3 separate regions of the Homo sapiens genome follow, and regions 1 and 3 are each linked to region 2. Evidence: fine-mapped expression QTL. A gene starts in region 2. Each other region holds a variant in brackets. All regions are shown on one strand. Distances are between the middles of the regions.

What was found. PIP is the estimated chance that this variant, and not a neighbour inherited with it, causes the effect.
Region 1: its variant is the best candidate, but not a certain one, in a credible set for the expression of CCR2 in whole blood (INTERVAL, PIP 0.52).
Region 3: its variant is the best candidate, but not a certain one, in a credible set for the expression of CCR2 in whole blood (INTERVAL, PIP 0.81).

What each region holds. Positions count from the first base shown.
Region 1 is chr3:46,415,472-46,421,924 of GRCh38, forward strand. It overlaps LINC02009 (long intergenic non-protein coding RNA 2009), which reads right to left. Exons shown (of 5, transcript NR_151704.1): 3 at 5,902-6,021; 4 at 4,046-4,192; 5 at 1,045-3,575. Among named protein-coding and RNA genes, the nearest start is that of LINC02009, 5.0 kb to the right of the region's middle. The variant C/T (reference allele first, on the strand shown) is at 2,787.
Region 2 is chr3:46,350,275-46,356,727 of GRCh38, forward strand. CCR2 (C-C motif chemokine receptor 2) reads left to right here and starts at 3,837. Exons shown (of 2, transcript NM_001123396.4): 1 at 3,837-3,903. RefSeq lists an enhancer at 1-103.
Region 3 is chr3:46,312,224-46,318,676 of GRCh38, forward strand. No RefSeq gene overlaps it. Among named protein-coding and RNA genes, the nearest start is that of CCR2, 39 kb to the right of the region's middle. The variant G/A (reference allele first, on the strand shown) is at 3,870.

The DNA.
Region 1 (6,453 bases), 65 kb after region 2:
CATAGAGGTCAGGGGTCACTAGAGTTTGAGCTCAGGTCTGTTTCACTGTGAGTCTAGAGGGTCCCTGAACTTATCCTATAGTTATTCCCCCAGTTCCAGAATGCAGAATTGAGCTGAGAGCAGTGGCTCATGCTTGTAGTCCCAACACTCTGGGAGGCGAAGGTGAGAGGATCACTTGAGCCAAGCGGTTTGAGACCAGCCTGGGAAATATAGTGAGACCCCATCTTTTAAAAAGACAAAGAAAAATAAAGAAAATTGACATGGAAAAATAATATAAAATGTGAATAATCTCACATCTACTAAAGAAATCCAATCTGTAATTAGAACTCCTCCCACAGAGAACTATAAGCCCAGTGCCCCCATCAACTGGAGAAACAGAAAGAAACAATCTTCTTAACAGAAAGCATAATTGGAATAGAGATACTCTGCATCGGGGAAGAATCCCCATATTGATTCTCTGATCCATAGAGTGAAGGCCAAGTGGAAGCCTTTGGAACTCCCTCTACCTGCCAAGATACTAAACAAAACAACACTGCACGTCTGGAGGAATTGTAGCAAGAACTTGAAAGATGAAGGATGATGATGTCCACCTCTCTCCATTCAGCTCACCTATCTGGTTTGTGCAGAAGACAAATAGGTGTTGGAAAATGACAGTGGACCAGTGTAAACTTAATCAGGCGGGGGCTCCAGCTGCAGCTGCAGGATCAGGTGTTGTTTCATTTCTGCAGCTAATCAACCCTTCTCCTGGCACCTGGTGTGCAGATGGCAATTTTTCTTTTCTATTATCTGTTAGTAAAGACTATCAGAAGCTGTTTATTTTCAGTTGGCAAGGTCAGCAATACACTCCAAGGGAAGAGCAGTCTGTCTCAGATCTTACCGATGCCTGGGGATAGGGAGGGAGTGGCCCCCTCACCGTCTCCAAGGCCTAGTCCTCTGCTCCTGCTACTGGCAGCAAATCCACGCAGGTCTGCAACAACCTCAATTCCTGCCTCCTCAGAAGAAAGAATTCAATTGAGGGACATAAGACAGAAGGAGAGACTGAGGCAAGTTTTAGCACAGGAGTAAAAGTTTATTTAAAAGCTTTAGAATAGGAACAAAAGGAAGGAAAGTACACTTGGAAGAGGGCCAAGTGGACGACTTAAAAAGCAAGTGCGTGGTTTGACCTTTTGACTTGGGGTTTTATACGTCAGCATGCTTTCGGGGTCTTGCGTTATTTCTCCCCTGGTTCTTCCCTTGGGGTGGGCTGTCCCATGTGCCTGCCTGAGCCCACTGGCTCAACTCCTGAGATCTTATAGGGAAACTACTGCTCACCAGTTTCGAGTGTTTTCTATCTATTAGGAGCCGGCTTTTCCCTGTTGCCGGGTGTGACCAATTATTACTTTAGAAAGACAGTCAACAACCGCCAGACCATCACCTGATGGTCACCTGACACTCCTGGTGTGTGGGGTATGGGGAGCCCTCTCCTGCCCTGCTCTTTCTGACTAGCTACCCACTATAACACTCCCAGAGGGACCTGCACATTTTGTGCTCTTTGCAAGACAGTGCCTGCCCAGCACCTGTAGGCCTGCTCACCCCTTCAGGGTCATGATTTTTGCTTTTTACCGCAGGTACCCATAAGCAAAACATGGCATTGTTCACCATGCTTTTACATTATTCACATAATTTTAAGTTATTTACACAACAATGTAAAACCATGGTGAACCATGCCACATGTTGCTTATGGGTACCTGTGGTAAAAATCCTGCTACTAGCTCATTTTGCAGTGTCTATAATGACAGGTAATGCTCCATTCACTCCTTTATGACACTTGCAAAAACTGAGAACATAACGCCTCCCAGTTAAGCAGGCATCTGGGCAATGTGAGGAGAACAGAAATAGACCACGCTGCATTTATCTCTCTTGATGACAGGCATTGAGATTTCCACTTTTTCTGGTTTCTTATTATGTCTCTACTGGGCATTCTTACATACATCTTGCACGCCATGGAAAGTTTCTCTAGGGCAGTGGTTCACAAACTTTTTGGATACAGAATACTTTTATGTGCTTGAAAACTGAGGACCCCATACAGCTTTAGTTTATGTGGGTGTAAGGTTCTAGCCCAAACTGAAGTCCGAAGGGAGTTGGTGGGTGGGTGAGGGGTAGCTGAAAAAACACCCGAGGAATCATAGGCAGTTTGAACATGGCCTTATCCTCTCTCTGGGCACGAGCCATATGTCCAGTGTCAGCAGGGTAATTATACCTTTTACAGACAATAGAGGCTCTGAAGCAATCACGAGCTCACGTGAGTGGTCACCTAATGCACCTCAAGTGGCATGGTTCATAATGTGCGGAGTCGTGTGCCTACGCTCCAAACCCACTGAGTCATGGTGCACCAAAAAGTGGCCTCAGCCTGCTCCTGACTAAAGCGCAGCCATCTTCCTTACACTCCACCCCTAGGCCAGGGGCATCCTCCAGGTAGGGACATGTGCCCGTAGGGTGGAGCCCTGAATCCATAATCCACAGCAACAATACGGAGAGCAACAGCTCACGACTAGGATTCCAGCTATGCTACTTATGACTATCAGGGCCCAGCGTAGGCCAGAGCCCAGGGATGTCTACCATCTCTGCAGGGGGTCATCAGTAAGGCTCTTGACTACCTTAATCTCCTGTGAGACCCCTTGCAGGGCTGCTGTTATGTTCTGCCAATTGTCAGGGATAAAGGTACAACATTGTGTTCCTAAAAGGGCACAGGTGCCTCCTTAGGCAGCAGTTACTATGTCTAAGACCATTCGGTTTCGCAACACCAC[C/T]TTTCTGATCTGATCAACCTCATCCATTAATGGGAAGAGGGCCACTCAGGTGTAATTCAGAGCCTGAGCAGCATGCTCTGCAAGAGCAGTAACTTGGCTTCTACAGTTGTGACACACACTCCAGGGCTAGTGCCTGTCAAGGGGTAAAACCACCAGGGTGCTCATTACACTTGCAAAAACCGAGAGTGTAGCACCTCCCAGTTATGCAGGCATCTGGGCAATGTGAGAACAGTGGCAGGTACATGAGGCCACCCTCAGGTATAATGTCCAGTCCAGTTTGCTTATAGGTAAGGCCACCCTGTGTCCCCACAGACCCATAAACTCCCAGGGGGCACACAGTCCATCGAGGCCCCTTGGTGGGGCCGCGTCTTCCACCATACCTTTGGTGTGGTGACATGTATTATGCTTACACACACTGTGACGGGTACCCATCCCACAGTGCTATTACCCCAGTGTTGCTATATGCACCACAGTGCCTGGGCCAGGGGTACTGCACGTTACCTCACTAGCCAGCCCCACCCATCATAAATGCTATGGGCCAGCCAGGGAATGGCTGTGCTGTGGGTCTTGTGGCATCCTTTGTCCAAAACTTGCCACGTTGCGTTCCAGGCATCAGCCATGGGACCCCAAGTCTCCAGCCATGTCTGGTTCTCTGCAGATGCTGAATGTATGTGCTAAGGCAAGCCATCTGCAGCTGCTAGAAGGGCGGTGCAGATCCAACAGTTGGAAACATTGGTCACTTCAGTGTAGGTGTGGGCCCAGTCCACAATGCAGTTGGAGCATGTTAACCTACAGTTGGAATGACAGAGTAGGCATAGGTACTAACAGAGGAAAATCACATCCCTCAGGTAAAATACAGGCTAACCTTTCATCCCTGGATAACAATGCAGCCCCCAAGGGGTTCTGCCCTGGGCAATAGTACCACACCTTTTCAGCTCCCCATGGTTCCTTTGGGTCCTGTATTCATGCGAAAGTCACAGGGGAGCTTGTAGTAGGCCACACAGACAGTACATTTGAACCCTGGAGGAAAGTTTCTTCCCTGGCCGTTTTCCTACAAACAGTTAACTTCGGGGACCATTCATTGAACACCCAAAGAGTGACATACAAGTCATACTGTAGGCCCTCCCCACAGGGAGCTACGATGGACAACCACCAGCAGCCGGGGGCTTGGAGGGGCTATGGCCACAGCCAGGTTTTCTGTTCCCCTGCCTTCAGGGACGTTGGGGCAGGCAACAACAGGTTACTGTTCATCCCCATACCTGGTCAGAGGCGGTTACCCTTGGTGTGTATCTGCAACTGAATAGGGGTGGTGGCCCATGTAACAAAGCCTCCACCTGGGCTGGGCTGCTTTTCCATGGCCATTCATTCAAGGTTTGGAGCATCAGGTCCAGCCTGGAACTTCAGCCCTGCAAAGACAGGAGTGTGACATGCAAGTAAAACCCATTCTTCAAGAGCTCGCTATATCACTCAATCATACCCACAGCTTGCAAGTTGTGCGGTACATGGAATCCCTACTTTATGTCCATTGTTGTGCCTGTTGTCCAGTAAAATGTGTCCCCCATCACTCTCAATGACCAAAGGGCAACCATATAGAGCACATAAGTGTTGCAGGGTCTGGATGGTGTGCTGTTGGTTGGCCACCCTGCAAGGATAGGCAAACAACAGGCCTGTGGCTGTGTCCACAGCTGTTAGCGCATGAGTATACCCTTGTGACTTCGGCAGCAGCCCAATGTAGTCTACTTGCCACCTGGTCAAGGGCACTTGCCCTGTTGTCACTTGTGTAGCACTGGACAGCTGCCTCCATTTAGGGTATGCCTGAGCACATGCCGGGCATTTCTGACAAGCCTCCCAAATGTCTTGCATGGGCAGAGACAGACCCCAACATTTATTGACTTGTTGCATCAGTTTACCCCCTGCATGTCCCAGTTTCCGGTGTAGCTACAAGGCCACATCTCATGTAGATGCCAACTCTAACCATCGGACCTTGGCCAAGGCTTCTGCCTCGTCATTGCTGGGGGTGGCCAGAGGCATATGGCCTGACAAATGATAAATAGTTACATCTTTGCAATGACCCATTTCCCAGAGGTCTTGCTACATGGGTTGGTGGCCCCAAATGGGTTGGTGGCCAACTAGCCAATTCTGTATTTTCCAAGTAGTTAAACACAAAGTTAGGCCTCCATAGACTGCCCAGCTATCGGTACGGATTACCATAGGTGTCTCCGCCTTGTTGATCACCATCCATACTGCTTTAAATTCAGCCCATTGACTACTTTGTCCACATCTGGTTTCAAACCATATGGTTTTGGTACTAAGTTGGACTGCAACACTGGTCCAAGCAGGAGTAGCACCTCGACTAGACCCATCTGTGTGCCATGCCCCATCAGGAATAGAGGGACGCCCTTCCTTAAATGGCAGTGGCTCAGGGTCAAGGGGTGCCTCAGGCCCCATGGCCTTCTCTTGCATTAGGACTGCAGGTCCCAAGACCTCTTGCAACTCTGCTGCTAATGGGCTTGTGCTCAGCGTACTCTGTTGCTCCAAGTAAGTGCCTCACTTTGCCAAAGTGGATGTCTGCACCATCCCAGTCTGGGGGGTCATTACACATGAATGCACCCATCCCGCTGTCAGGTAAGTCATCCACACTGTGACTGTAGCCCATCCTATCACTTCTCACAAGCCTGAAGGGCAGCATATACAGCTGCTAGCTATTTCTCTATCAAGGAATACCAGAGCTCAGCTCCTTTCCATAGTTGGGACCAAAAGCCTCCTGGCATTCTCAGGCACTCTGTGTGCTGCCACAGGCCCAAACTAAAACCATCTGTGGTCACATGCATATCCAGTTCAAATGGGCACCCCTTGTCAAATACCCACAGGGCTCGTGCCTGCTGAATAGCCCACTTGGCTGCCAGGAAGCCAGTCTCAGCCACATCAGCCCAATCCCAGATTGCTCCCTTCTTTGTTAACTGATACAATGGTTTTATCATTTGAGCTAAATGAGGCAGGAATGTCCACCAATATCCCAGGAGGCTCACAAAAGTTTGCAGCTGCCTCACCGTGGTGGGCCAGGGATATGCCTAAATTTTGTCAATGATAGCCTCTTGTATGGCCTTCATCTTACCCGACCAGATAACTCCCAAGAATTTAGCAGGTAATCCAGGCCCTCGGACCTTGGATTTGTTGATGGCCCAACTGCATGCTGCCAAATGTTGCCACAAGAGGGGTGCCACTGCTTCTAAATCTGCAAGAGAATCAGAGGTTAACATAATATCATCAACGTAATGGAACAAGTGGACTCCCTTTGGACATTTTCAGGCTGTTAAATCCATGGCAACAAGACCATGACATATGGTGGAGCTATGCACATAGCCCTGCAGCAACACTGTGAAAGTCCATTGTCATCAAGGCAAACTGTTCCTGGCTCTCTAGAGCAAGGTCAACTGAGAAGAATGCATTGGCCAAGTCCACCACATAGTGGTACTGTCCTAATTCCATTGTCGAGTGGTTCATCAAATCCATGATAGATGGCACAGCTTCCAAGCCATGTAAAATATCCACCTCCAGAATGTATTCAGGTATGGGAGAGACATACACAGTGTATAAGCAAGGAGCCAAGTGGCCAATGCCAAGGTACAGAGATACAGGTTTCACTTTCACTGACTGGCCTCCGTAA
Region 2 (6,453 bases):
TTGTTATTTGGGGAGCATAAACTATTCTCATATCATTGGCTTGCAGAAAAATTGAGCTTCTCCTCTTCCTTGCCCCATGTCACCTTGAGGTGACCACAGCCCTGCCTTCTATGTAATCCTGCTTGGTCAGCAGGCACATCAGAGCTCAGTGGCTTGTGACATACTTTCCTTCAAGCCTGCTCGAAGGGCCATACTCATCATTGAGACTGGGAACCTTAGAAACCATGAACCCAGTGCCAATGGGTAGATACAGAATTCTCAAACTCATGAAAAAACATCCTTTTTAACTCTCTCCGTGTGCATAAAGAATTCTAAGATGTACTGATCAAGATTCCCAATTTTCTAACTATCTATTAATATATGGACGAGGTAAGAAGAAAGTTGCAAGAAAAAAATTTGTTTGACTTGACGGTTGTGTGGTTATTTGCCACACTCCCCCAGATCCACTCTGAGTCCCAGGATGCTGATTTTAGGGGCTACATTGCCTAGACTGTCCATTATTCCCTCTTCCCATCTGGTTCAGTCACTGGGAAGCACTGGTAGGAGGTCAGAGTGGGAGAAGGAGGTTAGGATACTTTCTGCCCCTGCTGTCCTACTGCTTTGCTGAACTTCTAGCAGTGGCTGAGCCATCAACCTGCAGCTCTCAATTCCAGCTGTCTGTAGCACTCAAGTGGTATTGTTTATTCTTTTGATCCTTCTAGCTGTTAAGGAAGAAAAAAATAATTTTTTCCTCAATGCTCATAAGTTCTTGGAATGGACCCCTGTAACAAAAGACAGATTAACACGAGAAAAGTTTATTAACGTACATATTTTATACGTACATAGGAGCTATCCAGGGAATGAATAATTCTTAAAAAGGTGACTTTGAATTCCAGCTCATATAGCATCTTCAACAAAGTTCAGTAACATTTTAGAGATATGACAAGACAAAGAAAATGAACTTTGAGCCTCTAGGGACAGTGACTTGTAGGAAGGCAAAAGGAATAAATGGAGGTAAAGGCTGGTTAGTAATACTTGTTAATGAAGATTCCTCTGGTGCCATCTCCAGGTCCACAAGGATTTAAATTTGTCTTCAGTGGTGAACCTTTGTTCACCCTGGCAGAAGGTGTGGAGGGGGGTGCAGATCCGTTTTGTCTTTGTAAGTCTATATCCTGCTTTTAGACAAATAAAGGGAGGGAAAAGAGCTTTCCTTCATCTGCTTCTTAATTGCCTTCAGCTCAACAATCCTTATGCAAAAGAGGTACATTTTAGGGTGTCAAATTCTGGTCTCCCACAAAGCATAGGGATGACAGACCACCTCACCATCCCTGTTGCTTCTTTTAAGCCTGCTCACCCCTCCAAAAATATTTTCATTCTATACTGTCTCTTCAAAATCTCAGCGGAGGGTGCCCTCTGTTATCCTGCCCTCTGTGTCAGTATAAGCCAAAGGTTTGAATCCTGGCTCTGCAACTATCTACCTCTGTGCCTCTCCTTGTTTATGAAATTACAGGGCTGGAGACAAAGATCACAATGTGAAGACAAAATTGGAGAGCGGTCCTAATCAGCCAGAGCAAAATTTCTGGCTCTTGCTCTTCCCCATCCTGGGTTGAATCATAGGAACAGGTGGCAAGATGCCAGGGTCAGGAGATTCCAGAAGTGGCAGCAAGCTCAGTGTTACCAGGTCAGGGATGACCTGTCTTATTATTGAAATCTCAGAGATATGCTCCAATTCCGGCCCAGAGACACATTGAGAGACAACTGGGGAACTTGCTATGTTCCTGAACAGGCAATGAGCTGTCTTCCAAGAAAAAACCTGAGACCCTTCAAGTCTCAGGTCTTACTTAGCACATATACCAGGTCTTACACAGGACACATGGTTACAACTGACTGAAATCTGGGCTGGGTGTAGGAGCTCACACCTGTAATCCCAGCCCTTCAGGAGGCTGAGGCAGGCAGATTGCCTGAGCCCAGGAGTTCGAGACCAGCCCGGGCAACATGACAAAACCCCATCTCTACAAAAAATAGTCAGGCATGGTGGCATGCACCTGTAGTCTCAGCTACTTGGGAGGCTGAGATGAGAGGATTGCTTGAGGTTGAGACTGCAGTGAAGCATGATCATGCCACCGCACTCCAGCCTAGGCAACAGAGCAAGATCTTGTCGCAAAAGAAAGCAAAAACACAACATAACACAACAACAACAACAACAACAACAACAGCAAAAAAGCCAACTTCTTGAAATCTGGAAAGGACACCTGGACTGCCCTGAGCATTTGATTGTTGTTGGCTCTAGCAGTGGATGCATCCTTCAACCTCTGGCACTCTGCAGGGCTCAGACTGTTCTGTTCTGTTTGTTACCTGTGGAGTGCCTGCCAGACCCTGCTCTAGCTGCTTTAGGTCCATTTACCCTCATAGACCCCCAGTCTTGTTATTCATATTTCATATTTGGGAAATGGAAACTTAGAAACTTGCCAAGTCCACAGCATGAGATCCTGCCTCCGGTGTCTGCTGGATTCCAGAAAGTGCCAGGGGCCAACTTAGATGACACCATGTTCTCTGCACAATCTTAGGAATGCTCCTAGTCTGATGTCCCCATTGCAAAATTTACATTATCTTTTAACAAAACGTCTTTCCAAGGAGGGGCATTTAAAATAACTGAGGTTCTTCTTGCTAAGGACGTTCCTGACACAAGAGATAATTTAGCATTTCCTTTTCATTAAAAAGTTTGAAATCCTGTAATTTGTGATAATGTGGATGAACCTAGAGGATGTTAAGTGAAATAAGCCACACACAGATAGACAAATACCACGTGATCTCACTCTTATGTGGAATTTTTTTTTAAATAAGTTGCTTAGCCGGGCATGATGGCACACACCTGTAATCCTAGCTACTCAGGAGGCTGAGGTGGGAGGATGGCTTGAACTCAGAAGGTGGAGGTAGCAGTGAGCTGAGACTGTGCCAGTGCACTCCGGTCTGGGTGACAGAATGAAACCCAATTTAAAAAAAAAAAAAAAGTTGCTATCTTAGAAAAAGACAGTAGAGCAGTGGTTACCAGAGACTGGGGAGGAAAGAGAGGAGGTGAGAATGGGCAGCAGTTGATCAACGGGTACAAAGTTACCATGAGATAGGAGAAACAAGTGCTGGTGCTCTGCTCCAAGTAGGGTGACGGTAGTTAATAATGAATTCTGTATATATAAATAGCTAGAAGAGAGGGTTTTCAATATCATTATTATTTCAAAAGAAATGATAAATGTTTCAGAGGATGGATATGTAATTACCCTGATTTGATCATTGCACAATGTATACATGTAGCAAAACATCACATTGTGTCCCATAAATATATACAATTATTATGTGAATTAAATAAAAAAAAATTTTAAAGTCTTATCTAAATGAAATTTCTAACCAGATTCTGAATCCATGATACCACTGAAACCAGCACACATGATCGCAGTAAAACCTCATTATACTTCCTCCACTATCACCAATACCCTTTATTCTCTGGAACATGAAACATTCTGTTGTGCTCATATCATGCAAATTATCACTAGTAGGAGAGCAGAGAGTGGAAATGTTCCAGGTATAAAGACCCACAAGATAAAGAAGCTCAGAGTCGTTAGAAACAGGAGCAGATGTACAGGGTTTGCCTGACTCACACTCAAGGTTGCATAAGCAAGATTTCAAAATTAATCCTATTCTGGAGACCTCAACCCAATGTACAATGTTCCTGACTGGAAAAGAAGAACTATATTTTTCTGATTTTTTTTTTCAAATCTTTACCATTAGTTGCCCTGTATCTCCGCCTTCACTTTCTGCAGGAAACTTTATTTCCTACTTCTGCATGCCAAGTTTCTACCTCTAGATCTGTTTGGTTCAGTTGCTGAGAAGCCTGACATACCAGGACTGCCTGAGACAAGCCACAAGCTGGTGAGTTGTAGGCATTTTTTCCATTACTTTCTGATTCATAGGCTCAACGCACCTCAAAGCTGGAAATGCCGGGTCTGGGTACACCCTGGGGAACTGCAAAGCCTGCACACTTGGGGGGAATGATCAAGATGAGAGGCAGGGGTGGGGATGGCATGTGCACCAGGAGATGTTAGAGAAACCCTGAGGAAGAGCAGCGTGCAGCAGGTGATGGGGGAGAGTGGGCAGCAAGCGAGGCCAGGACAGCCACTCTGCTCAGTCACCAGTCCACACACCCAGGGGCTCACTCTGCCCCTCTGAGCACCCAAGGACGTTAAAGAGCTGGAACTGTTAGTCTAAATATAGGACCATCCAAGCTCTGAACCAAAATGTGTCCCTTGCCTCAACTCAGGAGATCCACAGAGGCAGAAGTAAGGAATTTATTTTCTGAAAGATAGATTTCTATCAGTTCTGGGTGACATGTTCTGACACTTGAAATGACACCTAGGACAGCACATTTCAGGCATCTTGCTCATTGTTCACTGTAGTAGAAGCTACATGCTAGCCAGTTGTAAAAATGAAATTAAGTAATGTGTGCACAGCATTTAACATAGCATCTGAGCTTCAGGAGCACTCAATTAATGACCACAGTTGTGATTCTTTAGGCAGATGCATTTTTTTCCAACTTTGATCAGAGGTCTTATTTAGCTTCTCCAGATTTCAAGAATCTGGCTCAGTGATATGAAATACAAGACTTGTGAAAAGTGTCAATTGCAAGAGAAATGGAAGGATAAAGTATACAGGTGGGTGGAAAAGAAATTCACAGTCACTGCCAGAAAAAAAATTCTTGAGAATCAAGTCCTGATGATGTTAGGGCTTATAGTTCTTATTATAAAGAGTTTTATGTACTCATTCAGTGAACATTTATTGGTGCCTCCTTTAGCCAGGTACTATCATAAGAGCTGAAAATAGAAGCATAATCCAGTCCTTGATCTTGAGGAACATGCTGTGTGTAGCAGATAACATAATAAGTGCTTATCTAGATGCATGCAGTGTTATGTGATAAGAGTAATATGACAGAGGATACAGATTAGGCTTCACAGAGAAGGGGGATTTGAGCAGGAGGTATTGAAGGGTGAATAGAAGCTCACCAATCATTTTGGGCAGAGGGGCAAGGACCTGCAAAACCACTGAAGCATGAAGGAAATGGTGAGTTTAGGGAAAATGAAGAGAAGATGGCTGTGACTGAAGCACAGGATTTGGGATTGGAGAAGGGACTGGAGGTGAGGCTGAAAAGAGGCAAACTCAGAAAAGATGTTGTGCTGGGCAGTCTGGACATTATCTTTGAAGCCCACCACATATAAGTCATAGGGCTACTGGAGGTTTTAAGCTAAGAGTGACTATTCAATTTCAACTTAAGAGAAGATAGGTTGAGAGGGAACATGGCTTGAGATGAGCCATGAGCAAAGGAAAGACTACAACAAAGCCAGGAGTGAGGAGTGTGTGAAGCAAGAAAGTGACAGTTGAAAGCAGTGCAGAGGGGATGAATCTGAGAGGCATCTATGAGGTGGAACTCAAATGACATGATAATAATACAGGGCATTTCTCTGTGTCAGATGCTGTCCTAAGTCCTTACTCCATTGATCTTCACAGCAACTCAGCATAGTTAATATTTTATGCATAAAGAAATCGGCACTTGAAGGAGTAATTGGCCCCAGATTACACTGCCTATAAGGATTCAAATCCAGGTTTGTTTGGCTCCAAAAACTGGCTCCTAATTTTCAGAAGGAGAAGCAACCCAGGGCAATGCCCAATTTTGCTTCTTAGGCAATGGAGGAATCCACAATCGGAAGGAGTTTTCAGCAGTGCCCCATTTGGGGTGGGTTGAATTTGAGGTCCCTGCATGATACCCACTTTGCTCACTTCAGTGCCTAAAACTGAGTATGGTTCATAGTAGGTGTTCAATAAGTGTTGATGCAGTGAATACATGCATGGGGAGATATGCATCAGGCAATGGGAAATTCAACTCTAAGGCTTAGGGGAAAGCTGGAGCTTGAAGACAGAGCTTTAGAAAACAGTAGCATAGAAGGGAGTAGGAACCATGAGTTTAGACAATACAATTCAGGAAGAACTTTGTAGCAAGGATAAAGAGGCAAAAAATTAAAGAGGTGAGAGCTAAGTGTGGTGCCTGGGGAATCTTAAGGTGTGGGCACGGGGAGGAGATGCCAGCAAAGAACATGAATAAAAAGCGGTAGCACAGCCCCTCCCATCTGGAAGCCAAAAAGAATTGTAAATGGAGGAAGTTAGCAGAAGGATCAAATACTTGAAGAGGGTGGAATTGGAATAAAACCAGGGCATTTGAAAAATTGGGTTGTCACTGCAATCTTAACAAGAGAAGTTTTGGCAGGATGATGGAGGCAGAAAGCTGAGAGAATCATCAGTTAGAACGTTTTTGACTTCAGAGAACAGAAAATGCAGTTCATAATGGCTTTAAAACAGGGGCTTGTTTTTCTCCCAGCAATTTGAGAGGCCAAGGCGGGTGCATCAGGAGGTCAAGAGACCGAGACCATCCTG
Region 3 (6,453 bases), 38 kb before region 2:
TTCTGCTAATACTGTCCTGGTGGCTTGCTACTATTCCCATGAAGCCTCCACTGATACTACATTACTTTTGGGTGGTGGCAAATGTCCTGCCTCTCCACTAGCCCTCCTGCTCTAAAACAACCCGAGTAGGGAGTGGGAAGGAAGCTTTGTTACTGGTAGGTGGGAGCTGAAGTCCAGACTTGCCACATTGTCCCACTGATGCTACAGGGAGGAGGAAGCGGGCCACATTACTGCCTGATAGGGATGAAAGCCCCAGCTCCCTACCTGGCCTTCGCTGATACCAGCCTGCTACAGGAGTGAAGAGAGATTTGAAGGCCTCAATATAGCCTGTCGAGGGTGGAAGTCTTGCTCCCAATGGGCCTTTAGCAGCATGGGTGGGTGTGGGGCCATAGCTGTCTCTGTACTGCTTGGCTAGAGTGGAGTATTTGAGGTCCAAAAGTTTTCTGTCTTTCTAGCCCTTTGGTTAGAAAGAGCAGACTTTTGTTGGAAGTATTTTTTTGTGTTTACCTGTTGTATTTCCAGGTTCCTAGCTTCTCCAGCACAGTCTGGGATGTGTGAGACACAGAGAAAATCCAGTGATGTTACTACCGTATGGTTTCTTGGGTCCCAACGTCTCTAGCTAATCTGCTCCACCTTTTGGAGTTTTCTTATTTGTTTTAGATCAGGGATTTAGTCATATTTAATAGGAGAAATATGGAAAAATACTTCTACTCTATCTTCCTGGAAGTTCCTGTTTATTTTTTATGTCCTTTTCCTCTGGCTAGACCGTAAGAGACTTACGAAACAAACACTTACACATTCTACTAAACTCAATGTCCAAAGTTTGTGAACTTCTTGAATATTGCTTGTTCATTTCCACCCCCAGTCACTGACTGAATCTCCCTGCTGTCTGTCTACAATGCCAATGAGCTTCTGGTTAACTTCTTCTCATGCATGCTTAGGCAACAACTTCCCAGTTTTACTACACTTGCCCATCCCTAGTTTTGTTGTTGCTTAATCCCTTGGCCTAGTGCCACCATACTCCTCCAGCAGAGCAACCAATTCTTACATTATAGGACAGCACATATCCACTAAAAACAGTTCATGCCACACCAACCACATTTCCCTTTGTCAACAAAATTACTTGATAGATAATTCCAGGAATGCCTGATGAAGCTGATTGACAACAAGATATTTGGCAGACTCTCTGCTGCCTATACATACCTTAGCATGTGGAACTCAAGTAATGAGAGGTCCATTTAATTGGATTGAATTGGGCTGGATAGGATTGGATTGAATCCTGTGGGATGGCTAGGCTAAATTAGAAATGAAGACTAGTTTAACAGCAGTATCCAAGGATAGTTGACTAATGAGTTAATTTTACTCTCAAAGACAGTCTTTAGTAGTAAGCTGTAATGCATTATATCAAACTATTTTCCAGTCAATGATTTATAAGTTACTTGAATAAGGATGCTAAAGATGTGCCTTATTGAAATGGCAATTAGCACAAAGTTGGGAATGAAATCTAATTAGTTAAATAACAGAATCACATAAAAAAGGACTTGAATAAATGTAGCATCCTACCATGTTCCTGGATAGAAAGACTGCTATCGTAAAGATATTCATTCTCCTCAGGTTAAATTATAAACTCAATGCAATTCAACAGGATTTTAAAAAACTAGACAAAGTGATTCCAAGTTTACGTGGAAAATAAAATGTGAGGGACCAAACAATATTTGAAAAAGAAAGAGAATAAAATCTCATCCTTCCAGATACCACAATGTATTATAAAGCAATAGTAATTAACATGAGGGCAGAAATGAGCAAGCAAGTGAACAAAATAAGACAGATAGTCACAGGAAACTCATATATTTATAGGTGCTTTGCGTATAATGAAGATGGTCCTTCAAATCAGTTGGGAAAAGATGGGTTATTCAATAAATGGTGTTGGGTAAAATTGGTTATACATTGGTGAGAAATAAAGTGAAACTCCTACTTTGTATCATATGCAAAAAATAGATTCCAGACAGATGAAATATTTAAATGTAAAAAATAAAATTCTAAAACTACTAGAAAAAAAAGAAGAATATTTTTATTCCTTTGAAATAGAAAAGGTCTTACTAAGCAAAACACAGAAGTAATAAATGAATAAATGAAGACAAATATGATAAAAATAAGTTAAAAATATAAGCAATCTTTCTTTGTTTTTTTTTCACCTTTCCTAGAAAAAAATATATAGGCAACTTGTTAAGCAAGGTAGATTACAAGAAAATATTTACAACATTTGACAGGCCACAGATTATTATCCAGCCTCATCTGATAAGAAAACTTCAACATAAAGATATCTGTTTTTTTTCTTATAAGGTTCCTCAAAGTGAGCCAATCACTTCTTAAGCTGAACAAAAAACAAAACAGAAGTGATCTTTTCCAATAATGAAAACAAACATTGACAGAGCAGCTGTAGGATCCTTTCAGGCAAATTATGAAAAGGTGCCCTTTCTCAGAAACCACAGTTACCATTCAGCTTTGTGACCAGAGGTTTGACTGTACCCTAGTCCCTACTAGCAACCCAACCACATAACCAACTTCAAAGGTCCTGAATGACTGTGTTGTACTTAATGGCAGATGATCTATCTCCCATTTTTGTCCTAAGGATTTTCCAAGATAATATATTTCTGCATTTGTTTTGCTTTTACTTCACTCCAAATTGAAATCTATTTGTGGGATAAGACTAAAGAAATGCTTATAGGAAAATTGATAGCACCAAATTCCTATCTTAAAAAATGAAAAAGGTTTCAAATCAATGACCTCAGCTTTTACTTTAAGAAAATAGAAAAAGCAGGATAAGCTAAAGCCAAAGTAAACAGAAGAAAGGAAATTATAAAGATAAGAGCAGAAATCAATGAATAGAAAACAAAAGAAAAAAATCAAACCAAACAGCTGATTCTTTAAGCAGATCTATAAAATTGATAAAACTCTAGCCAGATTGATCAAGTAAAAAAGAGAGAAGACACAAATTACCAGTATTAAGAATGAGAGAGGCAATATCACTACAGATCCTACAGATATAAAAAGTATAAGGGCATACTTTGAATAATTTTATGACTATAAATTAGGCAACTTAGATAAAACAAATTTCTTGAAAGACACAAACAACCAAAGCTCACCTAAAATACTCACAAATTGAATAGTCTTATAGCTATTACAAAATTGAGGCCAGGCGCAGTGGCTCAAGCCTTTAATCCCAGCACTTTGGGAGGGCTAGGAAGGCGGATCACGAGGTCAGGAGTTTGAGACCAGCCTGACTAACATGGTGAAACCCTGTCTCTACTAAAAGTACAAAAATTAGCCAGGCTTGGTGGTGCGTGCCTGTAATCCCATCTACTCAGGAGACTGAGGCAGGAGAATTGCTTGAACCTGGGAGGCAAAGTTGTGGTGAGCCGAGATCGCGCCACTGCACTTCAGCCTGGGCAACAGAACAAGACTCCGTCTCAAAAAAAAAAAAAAAAAAAAAAATTGAAATTATAGTTAAAAGTCTTCCCACAAAGCAAACTCTAGACCCAGATGGCTTCAATGGTAAATTCTACTGGACAATCAAACAGGAAACAGTAATAATTCTCCACAATGTCTTTCATAAAATTGATGCGGAGGAGATACTCTCCAACTCATTCTATGAAACTAGCATTACCCTGATACCAAAATCATACAGAGACAGTGTAGGAAAACAACAGATCAGTATCCTTCATGAACATAAATGAAGTACAATGCAGTCTTATGCATAAATCAGAGCTTCATTGTTCTACAGATAAGGTAATGTAGGATTGTTGGTTGCCCCTCCAGGTCTGTTAAATTCACCTCCTTCCCCAGAGAGCATCCTTCTTAAGGACAGG[G/A]AGCCTCAATATGTCAGTCCTCACAGCACCTCCCTCAGTCTTCAGCACTTACCAGCTCATCACCACAACCGATACCACATTGGATAATTTCATGAATTACTTTAGAGCAAATGCAAGAGAAAAAATGGATTTTTATATAGGAGAAGAAGGAGGAAATTCTTGTGGATTTGGTACAGAATAGGGCCAAGGGAAAATTACAGATGTAAAAAGAAAAGTGTGTGAAATAGTATCCTTAGTGCTCACAAATACAATGATTTCATTGTTTTTAAAAATAAAAAATGACAAATGTCTAATGCTTGGTGGTAATGCTTTATTGAATGTGTGTTATACACTGGTTCCTCATTCCTGAAGTTAGAAATAATACCTTCCTCTTTTCATTTGGTTATGTTTGCTGAAACAAATCAAAGGCTGAGATTGAAACACATGCTACTTCAGGTGGATGACCTTACTACTAAGCTCATCACAACAGCACTTACAGCTGAAGACCCCAGAGTCCTACCTAACTTTTGTCACAACCCAGATTTTGGCCATGTAGTTCTGGGCCTTACCATTAAAGCAGACAGAAGTCAGAGGAATGACTCCTTTCCACTTGAAGTGAGCTGCAGGCTTCTAGGAAAGGCAAGATGCACATTTCCCTCCTGTGGAGCATAAAGCCTTTGTAATTCAGGACTTAGGACCCATATGGATTTGAAATATTATGACATTGGAGCTGGAGTGGTTGGGGACAACACCAGTAGTGTTATAGGCCATGGAATGTCAAAAGAACATGGAACCCTGTTAAAATCATTAAACATCAAAACTCTCCCCTCCTCTGGTGATATGGTTTGGCTGTGTCCCCATCCAAATCTCATCTTGAACTCCCATGTGTTGTGGGAGGCACCCAGTGGGAGGTAATTGAATCATGGGGGCAGGTCTTTCCCATGCTGTTTTCACGATACTGAATAAGTCTCACAAGATCTGATGGTTTTATAAAGGGGAGCTTCCCTGCACAAGCTCTCTTCTCTTGTCTGCCACCATGTGAGACATGCCTTTCACCTTCCGCCATGATTGTGAGGCCTCCCCAACCATGTGGAACTTTTAAGTTCATTAAACCTCTTCCTTTTGTAAATTGCTCAGTCTCAAATATGTCTTTATCAGCAACGTGAAAACAGACTATCTGATTTTCTGTGGGATGTGGATTATGACCATGGACAGAGCATAACTGGGACAGAGCTGGAAAAAATATTAATTAGGTGCTTAAAAATATTTGTTAGAACTATCTTCATGAATGAGAATCAATCCTGTTTCCATGGTGATTCACCAGGCATCAATTCCAAGCATCCATGAATCAGAAAAGTCCTATCTTCTCTTAGTTATCATCCAGGACTCCAAGGAACCATAATTAGCCAACCTGTTCACATTTCCTTTTCATTCACTAGCCTCGAAGTTTCCAGGGGACAGGGACTCTGTCCTATTCATTTCTGTAACCTTACCACCTGACCCAGAATAGCTGTTCCCTGAAGATTTGGTGGATTATAAATGTGGATGTCTTATTTCTTTGAAAGTGTGAGCTTCAGGTACTGATCACGTTATTCCAATTATCAATTTAGTATCTTTCTTCACCATTAAACTGTGAAATTCTTGAGGGAAGAACCTATGACTGATTTATCTCTGTAAACTCATGCCACCAGTATTCAAAATCACACCTAGCACATAGTAAACACTCAATGTTTGTTGAATGACTGAAGGAATGGATGAAAATGAACCTCCTTGCTTCTGACCAGTGGATGAGTTGCTTGGCCGTGTTCCTACAGCCTAGAGCTCATCCCCTAAAGCATCTGAAGTTACCCATTAGTGCAATGGTTCTTGAACGCTGGTGTTGATCAGAATCATCTGGATGCCCAGGTTCTCTGAAATAAGATAGGGTCTAGGCATTTGTATTTTTACCAAGGAGGTGTGATGGAGTCAGATGCAAGAAGGCTAGTTGAAGAAACCACATGAGAGTTTAGTGTAGTGTATTAGAAGACTGGTTTGGCTCTGTCGCTAGTGGCTACATCATCTTGCTCAAGTCATGCCAGTCTCAGGACCTCATTCAGTCTCTTCAGCTGTAATATGGGTGGGTTGCACCACATAACCAGAAAGATCCCTTCCAGCTCTACCCACTTACAACATGGTCAAATTTGGTCTGATTTTTTAAATCGTAGTACAATATATATGACATAAAATTCACCATTTTAGCCACTTTAAATGTACAATTCTGTAGCATTAACTACATTCACATTGTTGTGCAACCATCACTACCGTCTACTTCCAGAACTCTTCATCTTGCAAAACTGAACCTCTGTTGTCATTAGTCACTAACTATTCCTCTCCCCCCCTCCTTCTAGGCCCTGGCAATCACCATTCTACTTTCTGTCGCTATGAATTTGACTACTCTAGGTAACTTATATAAGTGGAATCACAGCATTTGCCCTATTATGACTGGTTTAGTTGACTTAGCACAACCTCCTAAGGCTCAACCACATTTTAGCATGTGTCAGAATTTTCTTTGTTTTTAAGGCTGAATAATATTCTGTTGTATCTGTAAATAACATCTTTATTCATT